4 linked regions of the Homo sapiens genome follow. The protein of the gene in region 1 interacts with the protein of each later gene in a pairwise test. Each region holds a gene or a part of one and is shown in the gene's direction. Other genes may lie near its edges.

The links. Proteins that work in one complex are often made in the same cells at the same time.
Region 2: the proteins of USP54 (region 1) and SS18L1 interact in binary tests that used the Homo sapiens proteins (3 or more experiments, as listed by UniProt).
Region 3: the proteins of USP54 (region 1) and DTX2 interact in binary tests that used the Homo sapiens proteins (3 or more experiments, as listed by UniProt).
Region 4: the proteins of USP54 (region 1) and KCTD9 interact in binary tests that used the Homo sapiens proteins (3 or more experiments, as listed by UniProt).

The regions. Positions count from the first base shown.
Region 1 is NC_000010.11:73,510,834-73,515,785, reverse strand, and holds part of USP54 (ubiquitin carboxyl-terminal hydrolase 54), read left to right. Parts: intron 1-4,952.
Region 2 is NC_000020.11:62,173,778-62,178,729, forward strand, and holds part of SS18L1 (calcium-responsive transactivator), read left to right. Parts: intron 1-739; coding exon 740-867; coding exon of another isoform or gene 868-954; exon of another isoform or gene 955-2,541; intron 2,542-4,952. UniProt on the Homo sapiens protein: Transcriptional activator which is required for calcium-dependent dendritic growth and branching in cortical neurons. Recruits CREB-binding protein (CREBBP) to nuclear bodies.
Region 3 is NC_000007.14:76,495,218-76,500,169, forward strand, and holds part of DTX2 (probable E3 ubiquitin-protein ligase DTX2), read left to right. Parts: intron 1-2,119; coding exon 2,120-2,260; intron 2,261-4,952. UniProt on the Homo sapiens protein: Regulator of Notch signaling, a signaling pathway involved in cell-cell communications that regulates a broad spectrum of cell-fate determinations.
Region 4 is NC_000008.11:25,430,473-25,435,424, reverse strand, and holds part of KCTD9 (BTB/POZ domain-containing protein KCTD9), read left to right. Parts: coding exon 1-62; intron 63-1,989; coding exon 1,990-2,095; intron 2,096-2,771; coding exon of another isoform or gene 2,772-2,787; coding exon 2,788-2,921; intron 2,922-4,952. UniProt on the Homo sapiens protein: Substrate-specific adapter of a BCR (BTB-CUL3-RBX1) E3 ubiquitin-protein ligase complex, which mediates the ubiquitination of target proteins, leading to their degradation by the proteasome.

The DNA.
Region 1 (4,952 bases):
AAAAGAATGGTTCATAGGTGTTTGAGAGTGATTCAGCATGACAGCATGAAATGGAGGGAGGCTGAGAGGAAAATATATTCTTCTATGGCTTAGAATCCCAAGATTCAGCCTCCAGGTCTGCTTTGCAGTAGGATGTCCATATGCTCAGTGTGGACATTTCCAGATCATACTGAACCAGCAATATCAAGACCTTCCTGATCCCTTTAGGAAAAGTCAAGTTTGGTGTTCAAGGAATTTTTAATGTACTATATGCCTACAGGGTAGCCACTGACTGAGATAATACAGAGTGAAGAGTAGAGCCTGCACCTGAAGTGCACATCATAGTCAGTTCTGGAAATTGAAGACATGAAGAATGTTTGTAACTTACATTGATGCACTTAACTCCAAAGCCTGAACTATTTTCCTGATTCCAACATTAACTCTCAGTATAAATTTGGACAAGTCACTTAATATCCCAGGGCCAAGGTTTTACCTGTAAAATGAGAGAACTGGCTTTTTTTTTAAAAAAAGATATGTTCTAACTCTAAAATGGCATGTATGATTCTGTGAAATTGAACTTGGAGAACTTTTCCTTAGCTTGGCTGTGACAGTTTCTGTAATGGTGCAGGTTCCTTGCATGCTGACAACCAACATATAATTACAGTTGAGTAAGTGTTTATTGAGTACTTACTGTGTTCTCCAGAGCCTTTGAGGGGAATACCACATAAATATAAGATTTGATTTTTTATTCATTTTTTTTTTTTTCTGAGAAGAGTTGCACTCCTGTTGCCCAGGCTGGAGTGCAATGGCGTGATCTCAGCTCACTGCAACCTCCGCCTCCCGGGTTCAAGTGATTCTCCTGCCTCAGCCTCCCAAGTAGCTGAGATTACAGGCGTCCACCACCACACCTGGCTAACTCTTGTATTTTTAGTAGAGACAGGGTTTCACCACGTTGGCCAGGCTGGTCTTGAACTCCTGACCTCAGGTGATCCCCCCGCCTCAGCCTCCCAAAGTGCTGGGATTAAAGGTGTGAGCCACCGTGCCTGTCCTAAGACTTGATATTAAGATACATTTCTGAGGATCCGTATCCTAATGTAGATTTTACAATAACATTTACTAAGGTGGTCTTTGATAGGACTGGTTGATATGGGAAGAATCTAAAGAATAAGGGAAAGCTGGAGTCTGCCTCAGTGAGCTTTCTATCTAAGGAAGCAAGAATACACAAATAATTTTTTTTTTTTTTTGAGACAGAGTCTCGCTCTGTTGCCCAGGCTGGAGTGCAGTGACGTGATCTCAGCTCACTGCAACCTCTGCCTCCTGGGTTCAGGCCACTTCTCCTGCCTCAGCCTCCCGAGTAGCTGGGATTACAGGTGTGTGCCACCACGCCCAGCTAATTTTTATATTTTTAGTAGAGATGGGGTTCACCATGTTGGCCAGGCTCATCTCGAAGCCCTAACCTCAAGTGATCCACTCGCCTTGGCCTCCCAAAGTGCAGGGATTATACACGTGAGCCACCGTGCCAGGCCACAAGTAATTATTTTAAGAATAATAAGGCCAGGCATGGTGGCTCATGCCTGTAATCCCAGCACTTGGGAGGCGGAGGTGGGCGGATCATGAGGTCAGGAGATTGAGACCATCCTGGCTAACATGATGAAACCCCGTCTCTACTAAAAATACACACAAAAAAATTAGCTGGGCACGGTGGCCCACACCTGTGATCCCAGCATTTTGGGAGGCCGAGGCAGGTGGATCACCCAAGGTCAGGAGTTCAAGACCAGCCTGGCCAACATGGTGAGACCCTGTCTCTATTATAAATACAAAAAATTAGCTGGGCATGGTGGCGGGCACCTGTAATCCCAGCTATTTGGGGGGCTGATGGCAGGAGAATTGCTTGAACCCAGGAGGTGGAGGTTGCAGTGAACTGAGATTGTGCCACTGCATTCTAACCTGGGCGACAGACCAAGACTCTATCTCAAAACCAAAAACAAAAAAAAATTTGTATTACCCAAAATAGCAACATTTTTCATTGCAGGTAGTTTGAAAATACATAAAGTATCAAAAATCACTGATAATCTCACTCTTAATGTTTTCATAAGCTTACCTTTGGTTTTCATTTTTATACACATGTACTATATAGTTTTGTTTTTGCAAAAAGCAGTATCCTTTACACTATATGTATACAGTTTAGTATCATGACTTTCTCATGTTATATCTGTGAGCATTTGCTGTAAAAACTACCTTTAATGGTTATAAAGTGTTTCATATGAATGTACTGTAATTTATTTCTTCAACCATCCTACTATTGTTGAATATTTAGGTTACTTACAATTTTTTTTTTTTTTTTGAGGCAGTCTCGCTCTGTCATCCAGGCTGGAGTACAGTTGCACAACCTTGGCTCACTGCAACCTCCGCCTCCCGGGTTCAAGCAATTCTTCTGCCTCAGCCTCCCGAGTAGCTGGAACCATAGGCGTGTGCCACCAAGCCTGGCTAATTTTTTGTATTTTTAGTAGAGAAGGGGTTTCACCATGTTGGCCAGGCTGGTCTCGAACTCCTGGCCTCAAGTAATCCGCCTGCGTCAGCCTCCCAAAGTGCTGGGACTATAAAGTGAGAAGTGACTATAAGGTGAGCCACCGCTCCTGGCTTACTTGTAATTTTTAATAACATAGTACTGTGTTGAATATCTTTGCACTTAAGTGGTCACGTTTCTCATGAGCTCCTTAGAATAACCTTTTAGAAGACTAATAACTAGTTGAATGTTATAAACTTTTTTTTTTTCATTTTTGAGACAGGGTCTCATGTTGTTGTCTTGGCTGGAGTGCAGTGACATGATCACAGCTCACTGTAGCCTTGACCTTCTTGGCTCAAGAGATCCTCCCACCTCAGCCCCTTGAGTAGTTGGGACTACAGGCATGCACTACCATACCTGACTAATTTGAATGTTATAAACTTAAAAAAAATATTGATACATACTGGCCAGTTAGCTTTGAAGAAGACTATACTTCTGAAAACAGTATGAAAGAGTACTTACTGACCATTAATTTTTTTGTCTAGTAGTGTAAAGAAACAAATTTTTAAAAATCTATCTAGTAGTCAATCTATTCTCAATATATTTATCAAATCAAGCGGAGCATGATGACTCATGCCTGTAACCCCAGCTACTTGGGAGACTGAGGCAGGAAAATCACTTGAGGCCAGGAGCTTCAGGCTGTAGTGTGCTATGAGCACATGCCTGTGAACAGCCACTCTCCTCCAGCCTGGGCAACACAGTGAGACCCTATCTCTTAAAAAAAAAAAGTAAAATCAAACTAGTCTTTATTTTTGTTAGAGTCCTTGGTTTAAAAACTGAGTCCTTAAGAAGTGACATGACAGGCTGGGTGCAGTGGCTCACACCTGTAATACCAGCACTTTGAGAAGCCAAGGTGTGAGGATCACTTGAGCCCAGGAGTTCAAGACCAGCTGGGCAACACAGTAAGATCCCCATCTCTACAAAGACTGAGAAAATTAGCTGGGTGTGGTGGTGCGGGTCAGTAGTCCAGCTACTTGGGAGGCTGAAGCAGGAGGATCAACTGAGACTGGGAGGTTGAGGCTGCGGCGAGCTGTGGTCATGCTACTGCGCTCCAGCCTGAGCAACAGAACAAGACCCTGTCTCAAAAAAAAGAGGAGTGATATGACATAGAATAAAGAAGTGATCAGATAGAATTAATTGGGAAGTAGATGAAGGAAAATGCCAATTAGGATTCACATATGAAAAAATATAATTTGGCCAGGTGCGGTGGCTCACGCCTGTAATCCCAGCACTTTGGGAGGCTGAGTCGGGTGGATCACCTGAGGTCAGGAGTTCGAGACCAGCCTGACCAACGTGGTGAAACCCCATCTCTACTAAAAATACAAAAAAAATTAGCCGGGTATTGTGGCACGTGCCTGTAATCCCAGCTACTCGGGAGGCTGAGGCAGGAGAATTGCTTGAACCCAGGAGATGGAGGTTGCAGTGAGCCGAGATCACGCCACTGCACTCCAGCCTGGGTGACAAGAGTGAAACTGTCTCAAAAAAAAAAAAGAAAAAATATAATTTGAGAGTTCTTTATCTTATTGTAAAACATTTATTAAGCACCAAATTACATTACTTTTTAAAATTTATTTATTTTTTGAGACAGAGTCTCGCTCTGTTGCCCAGGCTGGAGTGCAGTGGCACAACCTCAGCTCACTGCAACCTCCGTCTCCCAGGTTCAAGCGATTCTCGTGCTTCAGCCTCCCAAGTAGCTGGGATTACAGGCATGTGCCACCACACCTGACTAATTTTTGTATATTTTGTAGAGACGGGGTTTCACCATGTTGCCCAGGCTGGTCTCAAACTCTGAGCTCAAGCAATCCACCTGCCTCAGCTTCCCAAAGTGCTGGGATTACAGGTGTGAGCCACCACGCCCGGCCACCAAATTAGTTTTTCAAAAAATGCTAAAAAAAAAAAAATGCTTTATTGATATGTAATTTACATGCCATACATTTCACCTATTTAAAGTGTACAATACAATGGGTTTTATTATATCAGAGTTCTCCATCCATCACCACAATCAGTTTTAAAGTGTTTTCATTTGAGGTGGGAGAATCGTTTGAACCCAGGAGGCAGAGGTTGCAGTGAGCTGAGATTGTGCCGCTGCACTTCAGCCTGGGCAACAGAGGGAGACCCTGTCTCAAAAAAAAAAAAAAAAAAAAGGTGTTTTCATCAGAAACTTTGTACCCGTTGGCAAATCACTCTTTATCTCCTCCTTTTCTTCCCCCAACCCCAGGCAACCACTAATCTATTTTCTTTCTCTAGAGATTTGCCTGTTCTGGACATTTCATATAAATGGAATCATGCAGTATGTGGTCTTTTGTAACCAGATTAATTTTGACATAATCGTAGTTCCTAAAGTGTTATATAAACACTGCTCTTGACCTATATTCTGAATTTCATTGTACTTTGAACTTGGGCAGAC
Region 2 (4,952 bases), on another chromosome or scaffold:
GGCTGAGGCAGGAGGATTGCTTGAGCCCAGGAGTTCGAGACCAGCCTGGATGACATAGTGAGACCATCTCTACAAAAAATACAAAAATTAGCCAGGCATGGTGGCACACTCCTGTGGTCCCAGCTACTTGGGAGGCTGAGGCAGGAGAATCACTTGAGCCTGGGAGGTGGAGGTTGCGGTGAGCCAAGATCACGCCACTGCACTCCAGCCTGGCTTGGGTGACAGAGTGACACCCTGCCTAAAAAAAAAAAAAAAAATTGGCCTCTATCAGTTCTTGCCGGAGCCTTTGACTTAGCCTTCCTAGAGACGATGTCTCTGTCTCACCTGCCTGCAGGTTTTCAGCAGCTCCCGTGGTAGTTCAGTGACAAGTTACAGCAGCCAGTGTGACTGGGGCCAGCGGGTTCTGGAGGGCTGTCCTGCCTTCAGGTAGCAGCAGTTCTGGGGTGATGGAGAGAGCCCATCAGCCCTCGCCATGCTGGTGGGGGGCCTGGGGCACAGTCCTGGGACCTCACAGGACTGGAGGGGCTGGTGAGTCGGTTACGTGGTGCTCTCGCTGTACAGAGTTAACGTGGAGCCACGTGCAGGTGCCAGGTGTTCTGGAGATTGACAAAAGGCTGATGCATTGAGACGGGAATTTTTCAAGGAGAAGAGGAAGTTTTAAAAAAAATTTTTAAGTTAAGAAAAAAAAAGAAAGAGGTGTCCGTTTTGGCCGGCCTCACGGTTCCTGGTGTCTTCTCAGGGTCTGCCCAGGGAGCCCCGTCACAGTACCCCGGCTACCAGCAAGGCCAAGGCCAGCAGTACGGAAGCTACCGAGCACCGCAGACAGCGCCGTCTGCCCAGCAGCAGCGGCCCTACGGCTATGAACAGGCAAGCTTTCTGGATGTTTCCAGATGTGCCCATCCGCCGCGCCTGTCGAGACATAATGAAGATTTCTCTTATGGCCATGAGGAATAATGAGCTGGAACTAACTGGCTTCCAGGGTTCCTTCCAGAACGTTAAGTCTCTGAGCCTGTAAGGTTTTGCAGAATTGCCTCTGTGTATACGCTCACCTCAGTCATCCAGCTGGCTTTTCATACCCTAAGCTCACCGTTAGATCTGCACGCCTGGTTCTCACATTCATTCACTCTGCCAGTGTTTGTCACGTACTGGGTACGCGTCCGGTCTCTGCTGAGTGCTTGGTGTGTGGCCGCGACACGAACCCTGCACTTTTAGAGCTTATGTCTCGCTACAGAGACATAAGGTGGTCCCACAGGGCCAGACTGTGCTGAGGACAGAGCGGGGGGCCCCAAATGGAGCCCGCCTTCCAGATGGGGGCGCAGGCGACCGCATTTGGCCCGTGTGGGCAATTCCAGGACGAAGACACAGCGGGGAGTGGCTGGCAGCCCCAGGCTCAGCCTAGGGAGGGGGAAGCCCTTTCTGCCCAGGAACAGTGAGCAGGGCTTTGAAGGAGCTGAGGAAAGAGCAGCTTGGAAGATGGAAGAGCGGGAGCTCTCGGGACAGTGAGGAGGCCGGTGTGGCGGGAGGTGACAGGGACAGGTGGGCGTAGGGGCCTCCATAAAGCAGACATCGCTTTCCCTCTGAGTGGGATGGGGCCCCTGGAGGAGGACAGGGTCTGTGTGGTGGGAGCACTGCAGGAGCGAGGGCCTCCTAGAGGAGAATGAGCCAGGCAAGGGAAGAGGGCGTGCCAAGGTCCTGAGGCACCAGGAGGTTTGTCCCAGTGAAGGCAGCCTGAAGGAGGCTCGGTGGCTGGAGCACAGGGCATATGAAGGAGAATGGTCTGGGACATTTTTTGGAGCCTCCTTTGAGAGAGTCCTTAGCAGGAAGTGGCTCTGTGTTGGTGACTCTGAGGTGGCTGGAGGTGTTAGGGACACTTTACACTGCCAGTGAAATTTCAAAGCACTACATCGCTCAAGTTTGTTTTTCTCAGGGAATTGGGTAGGTAAGAGGCCAAAGACTGTTTTTTAAATGCTTCTCGTCCTCCTTCTTCAAGAGGGCAAAGGGTCACCAGGTAGATGTAGAGAAGCCTAAAGACCATGTAACACAGTCTCCCTGCCAGGGCACCGTACTCGGCCATGCCTGGGAAGGGCACGCTGATGAGGCATTTACACAGATGTCAGGAGGGCTCTGGTGTGCTCTCAGGACACTGTGAGGCCACTGTAGCCGACGCAGGGGCCGCCTCTCCCCAGTGTGTGCTGGGCGCTGGTCAGCGGGGAGCAGGCCCCAGCTTGGCCCTCCAGGTTTGCACAGGAGTGTCATGCTGGAGTCTGGAAGGACAGCAGTCTGCATCCTGATGTTAAATTAGAATTATATGTGAATGATTCTGATGAGACGCCATACCTCCTTCATACAGTCCTGAAAATAACTTATTTGGATTTTGTGAAATAAGTGAATGTCCTAACTTAATTATAAGACTGAACCAGAGGACATATAACTTTATACCTACCTATGAAAAGACCGTGACCGGTCGTGGTGGCCCATGCCTGTAATCCCAGCACTTTGGGAGGCCAAGGCAGGAGGATCACTAGAGCCCAGGAGTTTGAGACCAGCCAGGGTAACATAGCAAGACCTGTCTCTACAAAAAATAAAGTAGTCAGGCATGGTGGTGCATGCCTGTAATCCCAGCTACTTGGAAGGCTGAGGCACGAGGATCCCTTGAGCCCAGGAGGTCGAGGCTGTAGTGAGTCGTGATTGCACCATTACACTCCAGCCTGGGCTACAGAGAGCGAGACTTTGTCTTAAAAAAAGGAAAAAGAAAGGCCAGGCGTGGGGGCTTACACCTGTAATTCCAGCACTTTGGGAGGCTGAGGCGGGTAGATCACCTGCAGTCAGGAGTTGGAGAGCAGCCTGGCCAACATGGTGAAACCCCATCTCTGCTAAAAATACAAAAATTAGCCGGGTGCCTGTAAGCCCAGCTATTGGGGAAGCTGAGGTGGGAGAATCGCTTGAACCGGGAAGGCAGAGGTGAGTTGAGATCACGCCACTGCACCCCAGCCTGGGCGACAGAGAGACTCCATCTCAAAAAAAAGAAAAAGACACAGAGCAATGGGGAAGATAGAGAATAGAATTTCACATCTGGGGGGAAATGTGTCCATCTAACTGCAAAATATTAAGATAGCCTTTAGTCAGCATCCAGTGTAGCTGGCCGTGGCGCTTTGGCACAGCACTGCCGGCGCTGGGCGTCTCCTAGGGGCCATTGTGCACACTGTGTTATGTTTGCAGCACCCCTGGCCTCCACCACGATGCCAGTAGCACCCCCATTGCCCAGTCTGACAATTTAAAATGACTCCAGACATTGTCAGATGCCCCAGGGGCAAAACTGTCTCCGTTTGAGAACCACTGGGCTACACTTAAACATGTGCTGAGGCGGCCAGGCGCTGTGGCTCACGCCTATAGCACTTTGGAAAGCAGAGGCGGGCGGGAGCAGATAGAGACGGAGGTTGCAGTGAGCTGAGATCGCGCCATTGTATTCCAGCATGGGCAACAAGAGCGAAACTCTGTCTCAAAAAAAAAAAAAAGGTGCTGAGGCATTGGGGCTGCCAGTGGTTTTATAGGGCTCCAGGGCTGCCATGCCTTCAGCTGAGCAGCTCTGGATTTGAGGCTTTCCGTCTTACCCAATGGTGCAGGAGCAGAAAGACATCAGAACAGACTCCCACTAACTAGAATCATCACAGGCAGCTCTGGGAATGAGAATGTGACGTGTTCGGTCAGGCTGGAACAGCTTTCCTCCCTCCCCCACTTCCTCGCTGGGGGCATTCGGGAAATCTGATCATTAACTAGCTGGGGACACATGGAGAACAGGCATGCAGATGATGATCCGTTGTCTTCCCCTGTGGCAGTCTCCCGAGTGGCTTTCACCACAGGTCCGATGCTCCGTTTTGCTGCCCAAGGAATTCTGCCTTGTGGCCTTGTGGGGCACAGGCTCTCTAGTTTCTCTTCTTCATGTTGTTTTTTGTTGTTGTTTTTGAGATGGAGTCTTGCTCTGTTGCCCAGGCTGGAGTGCAGTGGCACGATCTCGCTCACTGCAGCCTCTGCCTCTCGGGTTCTAGCAATTCTCCTGCCTCAGCATCCGGAGTAGCTGGGATTACAAGCACGTACTATCACACCTGGCTAATTTTTGTATTTTTAGTAGAGACAGGGTTTCGCCATGTTGGCCAGGGTGGTCTCGAGCTCCTGACCTCAGGTGATCCTTCCAAAGTGCTGGGACTGTAATCCTACAGGCATGAGCCACTGTGCCTGGCCTTTTTTTTTTTTTTTTTTTTTAAGACAGGGTCTCACTCTGTCGCCCAGGCTGGAGTGCATTGGCAGGAACATGGCTCACCGCAGCCTCAACCTCCGGGGCATGCGCCACAACATGTGGCTTATTCTTTTTTTTTTTTTTTTTTTTTTTGAGACAAGGTCTCACTCTGTCACCCACACTGGAATACAGTGGCATGATCTCGGTTCACTGCAACCTCCACCTCTCAGGCCCAGTGATTCTCCTGCCTCAGCCTCCCAAGTAGCTGGGATTACAGGCACGTGCCACTACCACCTGGCTAATTTTTTTTTTTGTATTTTTAGTAGAGATGGGGTTTCACCATGTTGGCCAGGCTGGTCTTGAACTCCTGACCTCAAATGATCCACCCACCTCGGCCTCCCAAAGTGCTGGGATTGCAGGCGTGAGCCACTGTGCCTGGCCGAGGCTAATTTTTTCTCTTTTTTTGTAGAGATGGGGTCTTGCTGTACTGCCCAGGCTGGTCTCAAACTCCTGGGCTCAAGCAGTCCTCCTGCCTCGGCCTCCCAAATTCAGATTTGTTTTTGAAACAGGGTCTCACCCAGACTAGAGTGCAGTGGTGCAATCACGGCTCACTGCAGCCTTGACCTCCTGGGCTCAAGCGATCCTCCCACCTCACCCTCCAAGTATCTGGGACTATTGGCACACGCCACCACACCCAGCTAATATTTGGATTTTTGTA
Region 3 (4,952 bases), on another chromosome or scaffold:
TCAGCTGGTGAGGGCTGGCACTGGGCTCGAACCCAGGCTGGGGAGGTCAGAGCGCACAGAGGAGAGGCTTGGATCTCAGCCCTGGCCCTGGGTGTCAGAAGGAGGGGTGTCTGCAAATTGGAAGTGAGAATCAGTGAGTGGGGGCTTCACTCTTCAGGGCTCTGACAGCGGGAATCCTCCCAGATGGGTGGAGAAAAAGGCTGTGGCCCTCCGAGTTATTCAGGTGTTTTGGGGGCTGTCAGGAGTTTGGGGGGCTGTCCCTAGCCCTCCTCCTCTCCAGGCTTCTGGGTTGAAACTTGTGTGTTTGTGACTTGAATTCAGGGGAGTGGGTCCTGCATTGAAAAGGACACGTGTGTCACTCATGCGGCCTCCTGGGGGCTGGTGGTGGCCCAAGGATGTCTTCATTCCTCAGCAAACACAGAGGGCTGCAGGCTTCCCAGGGATCAGGCACTGCCCCAGCGGGGTGCTGGAGATGCAGCTACGGGTGGGACCTCGTGGAACTCGTGCTGAGGGAAGACAGTCCATAGAAACAGAGGGGAGTGCAAAGCAGGAGTCCAGCAGGGTGGGGCGGGAGGCTTGGAGGGACAGGCCCCGTCAGGCAGTGTTCAGGGAAGGCCTGCCCGCTGAGGCAGTGTTGCCGGAGAACCCTGGGTAGGGAGACGTGTCCTGGCCTTTGGTCCTCCCAGACGACGTGGGCAGCGCAGAGGCACCAGATTCTCTTGAGGAAAACTGCACCTGTCCTTGTCCTCTCTCATCTCTCTGCCACCCGCGCCCGCTTGTCCTTCTCTCCACCCGACATTCAGTTCCCACAGGAACCGCATTTGAGCCCAGGAACAAGCTTGGGATGTTGGGGGCATTGAGCTCCCGGGCTCAAACCTCTGTCCTCTGATGCACGCTTTGGTGTCTCCTGCTGAGGGCCACTGCAACTCACCCTGCCCACCTCGGCTCTGCTGCCCAGGCTGGTGGCTGGTCTCCGCTTCTGTCCCCACAGCCAGGCACATGTGCCGGGTTGAGAAGCTTTGTTCTTCTAGTGGGGGCGCAGTGGCTGGCCTGGCCGCCCTTCACCCCTGAGTCACGCCATCTGTTCCTGGATGGGGAGTGGGGTCCAGGAGGACTGGGATTTCTACCAACTCCCCCGGCAGCCGGCTGTGCCCAGCTCCTGAGCCAGGTTCTGCAGACCCTGGAAGCCACCTTAAGAGATGGCTAAGAAGCTCTAGGCTTCCCCTTTCTCTGGAGAGGAGGTGCTTTTGACCTAACTGACCGATGACAGGGAGGACCGGGGAGCTGGCACTATGGAAAGTGGGGTAGGCCGAGGGTGTGGCAGGAACGGGTTCGTCCAGCAGGACACGCTGTGTCCCAGGAAGCGCTGGGTCATCAGGGAGCACGAAGGAAGCAGTGTCAGAGGAGAGTCCCCCAGGGCAAGTGTGGGGTTCCCTGCAGGCATCCGGCAGTGGTGAGCTCTGGAAAGAGTGGCCGGTCTGTCCCAGCATAGCTGCTGGCCACAGGCCCACCCTTGCCCGAGGGCGCCAGAGCCACAGCCTGGGGCCTTGCTGCAGCCCAGCCCTCACAGTATGGGGATGCTGCAGTGTGGGAGCAGGCCCAGGGGCCACGTTCCTGCCCGCCTACCCCAGCGCTGTCGCTGAAGGCCCTGGCACCCAGATCAGCCAGGAGGGGCATGGAGCACACACAGCACCCAGTGGAGGCTGGAGGCCTAGTAACTCCAAGCCAGGAGGGCCCAGGGCCTCCTGGGGAAGCTGAGCCCTTGGAGCCAGCCCCACCCAGGAGACCCCGTGCCCCGGGCGGCTTCCTGGAGTGGCGTCCTCCGCCCTCTGCTCTCCTGAAGTCACGGGTCCTGCCCCGGTGCCCACCTGCACACTGAGGGCACGGGCTTGTCTGTTGCTCCTATAGAAACCTGTGGGCTCTGGGGCCAGGGCTACCATGAGCCAGGCTGCCCCACCCTCTGATTCCTGGCCTGGGTAGTCCCCAGGGAGACCTGTGCGTCCCCGTGGCCATTGATGGTGTCACATCCTTGGCCTGAGCAGGGTTTGTTGGCGTCACATGCCGAAGGAGTCTTCTAATGTCTCTCCCTCTCTGCGTGTCTGCTCTCACACCCGTGCAGGCATGACGAGTGTTCTGATGTCAGCCATTGGACTCCCTGTGTGTCTTAGCCGCGCACCCCAGCCCACCAGCCCTCCCGCCTCCCGTCTGGCTTCCAAAAGTCACGGCTCAGTTAAGAGATTGAGGAAAATGTCCGTGAAAGGTAGTTCTTGTTCCCAAAAGCTCTCTGGCCTTTGCTAAGCCTCCTTCCGGCCTCGCTGCCTCTGACTCTTCTGCACAGACCCTCTTCCTTCTCTCTGCTCCCTGACTCCTGGGGGAAGGGGCTCAGTGGCCCTTCTCCCTGCCCCCGCTCGGCAGCAGAGGCGGCCCCTGGAAGCTGACTTTCCACCGCAGCCCCAGAGTTCAGCTCCTCTCCTCCAGTCACAGCTGGCATGAGGGGGCTTGTTCTTGAGGACTTTGTGATTTTTGTAAGCAACAAGTTGTGGGTGAGAGGCGGCGCCCGGCTCAGGATGCGGGGACAACCGTCCCTTCCGCCAGGGCCAGCACGTGTCTCGGGAAAGGCCCCCAGACAGCGGCCCAGGTCTGCTGCCCAGGTCTGCTGCCCTGACCCCCAGCCCTGTGTGGCCGCCACGTGGGCTGCTTGAGAGGGGTCCCTCGGTGACCCCTGCCCTGCTCGTTGCATGGCCACAGAAGAAGGGGCTTTAGGACCACAGCAGGTCCAGGGAGTTACAGCAAGACCTGCTCGGAGCAGCCTGTGATGGTCAAGTTCTGAACCTTTCCCAAGCGGGTGCTGGCCCTGCTTCCACCCCTGGGCTGTGGAAGTGTGGACTGTGGCCAGTCCAGACGCTCTTGAGTGGGCGTGGTGGCGGGCAGGGAGGGTGGCCGTGGCCCTGCTGGCCCTCAGTGTCTGTGTCATCTCAGCAGGTCCTCTCGGAGCCTCCGCTTAGCAGAGGGGCTTGGCGAGGTCTAGGAAATACTCGAAGCGCCTGGCATGCGGCAAGGGTGGCTTCCGATCGTGTCCGACCTCCAGCCCACAGGCGAGGAGGTGGGCTCAGGGAGGGGTGGGCCTCGAGCTCCTGCCCCCAGCCCAGGGCTCTGCACGCCCTGCCCTTCCCCTGCCCTGGGGGAGGAGCCAGACTCGTTGGCAGCCCGGGCTGGCAACCTTCTGTGGCACTCGGGTTTACCTGGGAAGGACACGCTCTTGGTGGGTCGCCTGGCTGGCCCCTTCTGAGACACGTGGCTAATGGAAAGCTCCCTTCTGCTCTGAAAAGCTGCAAGGGCTGGGGTGGGTGGGCGGGGGTGGGATGCTGTGCCCGGCCTCACCAGGGCTGGGCAGAGGCGAGGCCCAGGCTCACCCGGAGATGGCTCTGGAGTTGGCAGGCTTTTCCAAAGGAAAAGGCCCCCCTCAGCCTGAGTAGGGCATTCCAGCCACACGGAGGGCGACCCTGAGCTGGGGGCCATCGTTCTGGTCTGGCGTTCTCGCCACCGTGACAGGATTTGGGTTCGGGCAGTCTGTATGGGTGTGTGGAGGTGTGGGGTGTGTGGGGTGTGTAGAGGTGAGGGTGTGTGGGGTGTGTGGAGGTGAGGGTGTGTGGGGTGTGTGGAGGTGTGGGGTGTATGGAGGTGTGGAGTGTGTGTGGAGTGTGTGTGGAGGTGTGGGGTGTATGGAGGTGGGTGTGTGGGGTGTATGGAGGTGTGAGGTGTGTGGAGGGGTGAGGTGTGTAGGGTGTGTAGAAGTGTGGGGTGTGTGAGGTGGGGTGTGAGGTGTGTGGAGGTGGGTGTGTGGAGCTGTGTGTGGTGTGTGGAGGTGTGAGGTGTGTGGAGGTGTGGGGTGTGTGGAGCTGTGTGGGGTGTATGGAGGTGTAGGGTGTGAGGAGGTGTGGAGGTGTGGGGTGTGTGGATGGGGGTTGGGGGGTGTGGTCTTGCCAGCAGTTTCCCTCCAGGTCACAGCAGCCATGCCATCACAGCAATTCCAGCTTGGTTACATATTCGTCTTTCCCGTTTGAGATCAGGGAACCGAGGCTCAGAGGTGGCATGATTCGTTCACAGCAAGAGAACTAGAATTAAACAAACCGTGCCGACTCCAGCCTCCACCCCACCACGCCACCTCCCTGCCAAACTGTCCCCTCCCTGGCCCTTTTTGGTGTAAAGGGAGTTCAGCAGGTGCAGTTGTGAGCCCTCAGGCTTAGAATTCTCTGCAGCCCCTGAAGGCCGTGAGCTTGGATTCAAACCAGAGCCCCTTCTGGTCCTGGAGTCTGGGACGACCGCAGCCCCACCATGACCTTGGGGTGGAGCCCCTGTCAGGAGCGCCTCCACGGGTGGCACTGGGCTCCCCGTCCCTCTTTCACCCCCGCACGGGCTTGGCTGCTGGCTTCTGTGGTTCTGCTACTCCCACTACCTAGAGAACGCCCCGGGCCGCGCCGATCCTCACCAGCTCAGGAGCTTCTTGTCCGTAGGAGAGGCTTTACTGGATGTGGGGTTCGGTGTTTATGGAGATGCAGCCCTTCTCCCTCCAGCTTCGTGCACGTGTGCACAGACAGCGAGTGAGGCCGTCAGGGTGGGCTCCTGCCACGTCTTGGCCCCTCCCCAGAGTCGCTGGACTTAGGAGCTAGTCTGCATGTGACAGACCTTCCCAGTCAGTGGCAGGCGTTTCCCGGGACAGTGTCTGTGTGGCGGTCGGCGTGTGTGCAGCTGCCTGTACATGCTGGACCCCAGACTCCCTTGTCCCTGTGATGTTCATGCCAGGGTAATGCAAGTTGAATCAAATCGTGGTGCCACAACGCCCCCTGGAGTAGTTTGTGCCCGAAGCGGCTGTCTGACTCTTCCGCGCAGCCTCAGAAGCGCCGGGGTCGGTTCCTCACTCAATGTGCGCGGGGATGCGGCTCCCAGGAGAC
Region 4 (4,952 bases), on another chromosome or scaffold:
CACATGCAAATCTTTGCTGTGCAAATCTTGAACGAGCTGATCTCTCTGGATCAGTGCTTGACGTAAGTATCATTTTAGGCTACAAGAGAAAATTAAATGTTTAGTCTATTGAACAGTCTCAAAGAGCCTTTGAGACAGGAATTATAACTATCTTTTACTGGAGCTTTTACTTGAAAACAGATAATTTATTATGTTGATATAAGACTAAAGGTCTGAAAGTGAAATGAATTTGGTTTTACAGGTTTGATATCCTTTATTAAACATAGACTTGAAAGGTTTAGTAACTAATAAGAAATTAAATCTTGGAATTAGTTCTTGATCTCCTCAATATACTGTACTTTATTTATCAGGACTCATATTTTCAGCTAATTGTAAAGGTAAAGCTGAAAGGAACCTTGAAATCTATTCAGCCTCATTTCTGGAATGGGAAAATGTTACTGCTCAAGAAGTATTTGACAGATATTTTGAAATAAACATGGTATGCATCAGTTTGTGGAAGTTAACATCTCAGTGGCGTTTTCCCTCTCTCTACATATATGTGTATATTTATATATATGTATATGTATGTATTTATAACAGTTATCTGTGTTTATTTGAAGTTAGAGGATATATGCAGACCAACAATGAAATCTATTAATTTTTAACAACTTTAAGTTCCTTACCACCAAGGCCCGTGTCTGTATGTCTTTTGAATTAATACCATCTTGCTTTTGGTAGTCATTTATTGAATTACTCTAATTTGGGTTTTACTCATTAGCTGCAGCTTATTTTTCCATGAAGCTGTGTATCAGGGCGAGTAACAAAATCTACCAAATATGCATTTTAGTTACTTTCACTGTCCTTTATTCTGTCTTATCATGAAGGGTCAGGTTAGTAGCAAAACAGGAAAAAGACTAACATCAAAAAAACGTTTGAAGGACCTAATCTTTAAATAGTGAAATGTCGAGAGGCATCTTTGTTTGTGTTAAGGACAAAAAAAAAAAGATGTTTGTCAAAAACGCTTTGAGATAAATGAACATAATTTAAAACTCTTGGCTGCGTGTGGTGGATCATGCCTGTAAACCCAGCACTTTGGGGAGCAGAGGCAGGCAGATCACTTGAGGTCAAGACCATCTTAGCCAACATGGCGAAACCCCGTCTCTACTAAAAATACAAAAATTAGCCAGGCGTGGTGGTGCATGCCTGTAATTCAAGCTACTCAGGAGGCTGAGGCACGAGAATCACTTGAACTTGGGAGGCAGAGATTGCAGTGAGCTGAGACAGCACCACTGCACTCCATCCTGGGTGACGGAGTGAGACTTTGTCTCAAACAAAACAAAACAAAAAAATAAAGTCTTAAAACATATATTTTCTACCATTTTACTCTCTGCCCTGCATTATGCATTGTGATGTGCCTGCTCAGGGTTAATAATGTTTAGCCATGGTTGGTGCAGAAAGACCCAGCCAGCATCTTGTTAGTGTTTTCTAGCTAAATAATGCCTTTAAATGCTGGCTTTTGTATTCTGACCTCTGACTTGAGGGCAGTAGTAGCATCTTAGAATATCAAGAATTTCACTTAGAACATCAAGATTCCTACAGTAATAAGAAAATCCATACCCCTAACAAGTCTATGCCTTCCTTACCCATACATTTTGACTGTTTCATTGTCATGCATAGGTATGTTTATAAAAATAGAGATAGAGGTGTCAGAGTTCTGACTCACCCAACTTCTTTATCTAAACCGTTATGTTTCATGTAAAATGAGCATGCTATTGTTAATTTGCATTTATTTTTTAAAAAACAGTTCTTTAAAAAAATTTTTCTTTCAAATGTTCCCAGTTCTTACTGTATTTAATTAGAAAAGCCTTTATTGTAAACAGAAAATAAAATTGAGTATGAGTGTTTTGAGTTGAGCCTTTCCCTCTTTTCTATTTTTTTTCTTTTACTGTTTGAGCTAATTTGAACAAAATTATGAACCTTACAACCAGGACTTTTCTCTTTTCTTTGCAGTGTGCGAATCTCCAGGGAGTCAAGATGCTCTGTTCTAATGCAGAAGGAGCATCCCTGAAACTGTGTAATTTTGAGGATCCTTCTGGTCTTAAAGCCAATTTAGAAGGTGAGATCCTTTCTGTAAATACCTATTCTACGAAGGAAGCAGACTGTAAAGGAAAAAAGCCCTGGAAAATAATTGTTAAGGGTGAAACAGGATAGCTGTAGGGGATAGGTTTCTTCTGTCATCATATTTGGAGAACTTCCAAAGTGGTAAGAAACCTCCATTTGGTTTCAGTCAAATGCTAATCAAAATTGAGGACTCAGAAAAAATAAAACCTCAAATATTTAATAAGGTTTTAGTTGGAAAATTAAATATCAACATCTTAAACTTTCAAATGGAATAAAATATTCTTACACTGACCAAAAGGAAAAATTTCATTTGCATAAAGCCAGGGAGTTTTTAAAAATCATTTTTAGATTTAATGTATTGTTTCTTAATTTGTTACTATCTGTGACTGATCACTTTGTTTACTTGTATATTTAGGAGACTACTTCACTCCCTTATCATAAACCTGTAGAGGCATATTATGAAAGTGCTAACTATCATAAGACAGAACTAAATTTCTTCCCTCAAAAGTATTGTGAAAGCATTCTTTCATCAGTAAACTGTTTATATATATAAGTTCGTTGAGAGACAAGATTTTAGATTAATTTCCAAAAGTTAAAAGAGGCCTCCATTAAGTCATCTTGCAGTTCTGTTGAAGGTAGATAACTATATTTTTAAGTTAAACTACTCCCAGAATGTGTTCACTGTAGGTGCTAATCTGAAAGGTGTGGATATGGAAGGAAGTCAGATGACAGGAATTAACCTGAGAGTGGCTACCTTAAAAAATGCAAAGTTGAAGAACTGTAACCTCAGAGGAGCAACTCTGGCAGGAACTGATTTAGAGGTGAGTTCACCAACACTTTAAGAATTTTTATTACTCTAGACTTACTAAGCATCTCATGCAAAATTTATTGAAATCAAAACAAAGTAGTTGGCTGGTAAAACTGGATTGGAAGACTCATCTGACATTCAGTCTAAGTTGATTTCATTTCTCTCCTTTTCCTTGAGTTTTTCTCAAGTAAATAAGTTTGATAGATGTGTTATCTAATGTATTGCATTTTCCATAAAATTTAATTCCGAATAGAATTAAATGGGCTAGATTACTTCTTAAACTACTTGAGAAATTTAAATGATATCCAGGTTTGAAATCAGGTTCAGGAAAAGTCTATTTGAAATTGGAACCATATGTTTTTTGGTTTTCAGCTTGAGATTATAATTTTGCCTGGTCATCTTTTTCAAAGAATTATATTTGTATGTCTTCTTAATTTGCCAGTTTAGCTAGCAGACTTGATAGCTGTTGATAGGTCTATATCAGCACTATCCAATAGCACTTTGTGCAGGAGGGACATGTTCTATATCTGTGCTGTTCAGTATAGTAGCTACCACCCATATATAGCTATTGAGCGCTTGAGATTTGGCTAGTGCAAATGAGAAATTGATTTTTAAATTTTATTTAATTTTAATTCATTTAAATTTAAGTAGCCACATGTGGCTGGTAGCTATGAAATCTGGTATAAATTGGATAGCAGAGAACGGTATGTCAAAATTTAGCTTGCTGTTAATGTTTTTTCATAATATTTTTGCCTAGATATCTTGATAGCTCTCGGTAGCAGAGTAGCAGGCCCCTTTCAACTTCAAGGCAAAAAGAATTGGCCTAAGTATAATCCTATCACGAGCACAATTATTTATTGTTTGTTACATTACTTTCACCTAAGATTATATTTTTTTCCTTGGTTTTAGTACTGTGTACTCAGTGTGGCCTAGCAGCAAAAGCCTCCCTCTCTCTGATTGCAAAGACTGATCAGGTTGACTATTGAGGGGAGAGCTGCTGACATTTGTTCTCCTAACAGGTTACGTTTAGTCACCCTTCTCTCTAACCATTGTCCCCTATCATATCCAGGGACTTAAGTGGAATCTCTATCTTATTGCTCCGTGATCTCAAGACAAATTAAGAAATAGCTTCAAATTGCGGTGGTTACACTGTTCTGTACATCTGTCAAACTCACTGTATTATATACGTACCTTTGGGGCTTTAAAAAGAAGGGCAGTTCCTTGCTATAAAAATACTAGGGCTAGGGAATGGAAAAATCTATTACACAATTTGATTAAGTAAAATCTTTTCAGATTAAAAAAAAAGTCTTCCCCCCATCTCATTCCTTTTGTTGTTGTTGTTCTTGGATCATAGTAAAATTGTTTTGATAATATTTATTACTTTGGGGCCAGGCGCAGTGGCTCATGCCTGTAACCCCAGCATTTTGGGAGGCCAAGGTGGGCGAATCACTTGAGGTTAGGAGTTTGAGACCAGCCTGGCCAACATGGTGAAACCCCGTCTCTACTAAAAATAGAAAAAATTAGCCAGGCGTGGTGGTGAGTGCCTGTAACCCCAGCTACTCTGGAAGCTGAGGCAGGAGAATAGCTCGAATCCTGGAGGTGGAGGTTGCAGTGAGCCGAGATTGCACTCCAGCCTGGGCAACAAGAGCAAAACTCCGTTTCAAAAAAAAAATTGTGTGTGTGTGTGTGTGTGTGTGTGTGTGTGTGTATTTATTATGTTGGAATCCATTCTGTATTTTAAATCAGTGGTCCCCAACCTTTTTGGCACCAGGGACTGGTTTTGTGGAAGAAAATATTTTCACAGATCAGAGTCGGGGGCTGGTTTTGGGATGATTCAAGCGCGTTACATTTATTGTGCACTTTATTTCTACTAGTATTACATTGTAATACATAATGAAATAATTATATAACTCACCATAATGTAGAATCAGTGGGAGCCCTGAGTTTGTTTTCTTGCAACTAGACAGTCCCATCTGGGGGTGTTGGAGACAGTGACAGATCATCAGGCATTAGATTCTCATGAGGAGTACCCCACCTAGATCCC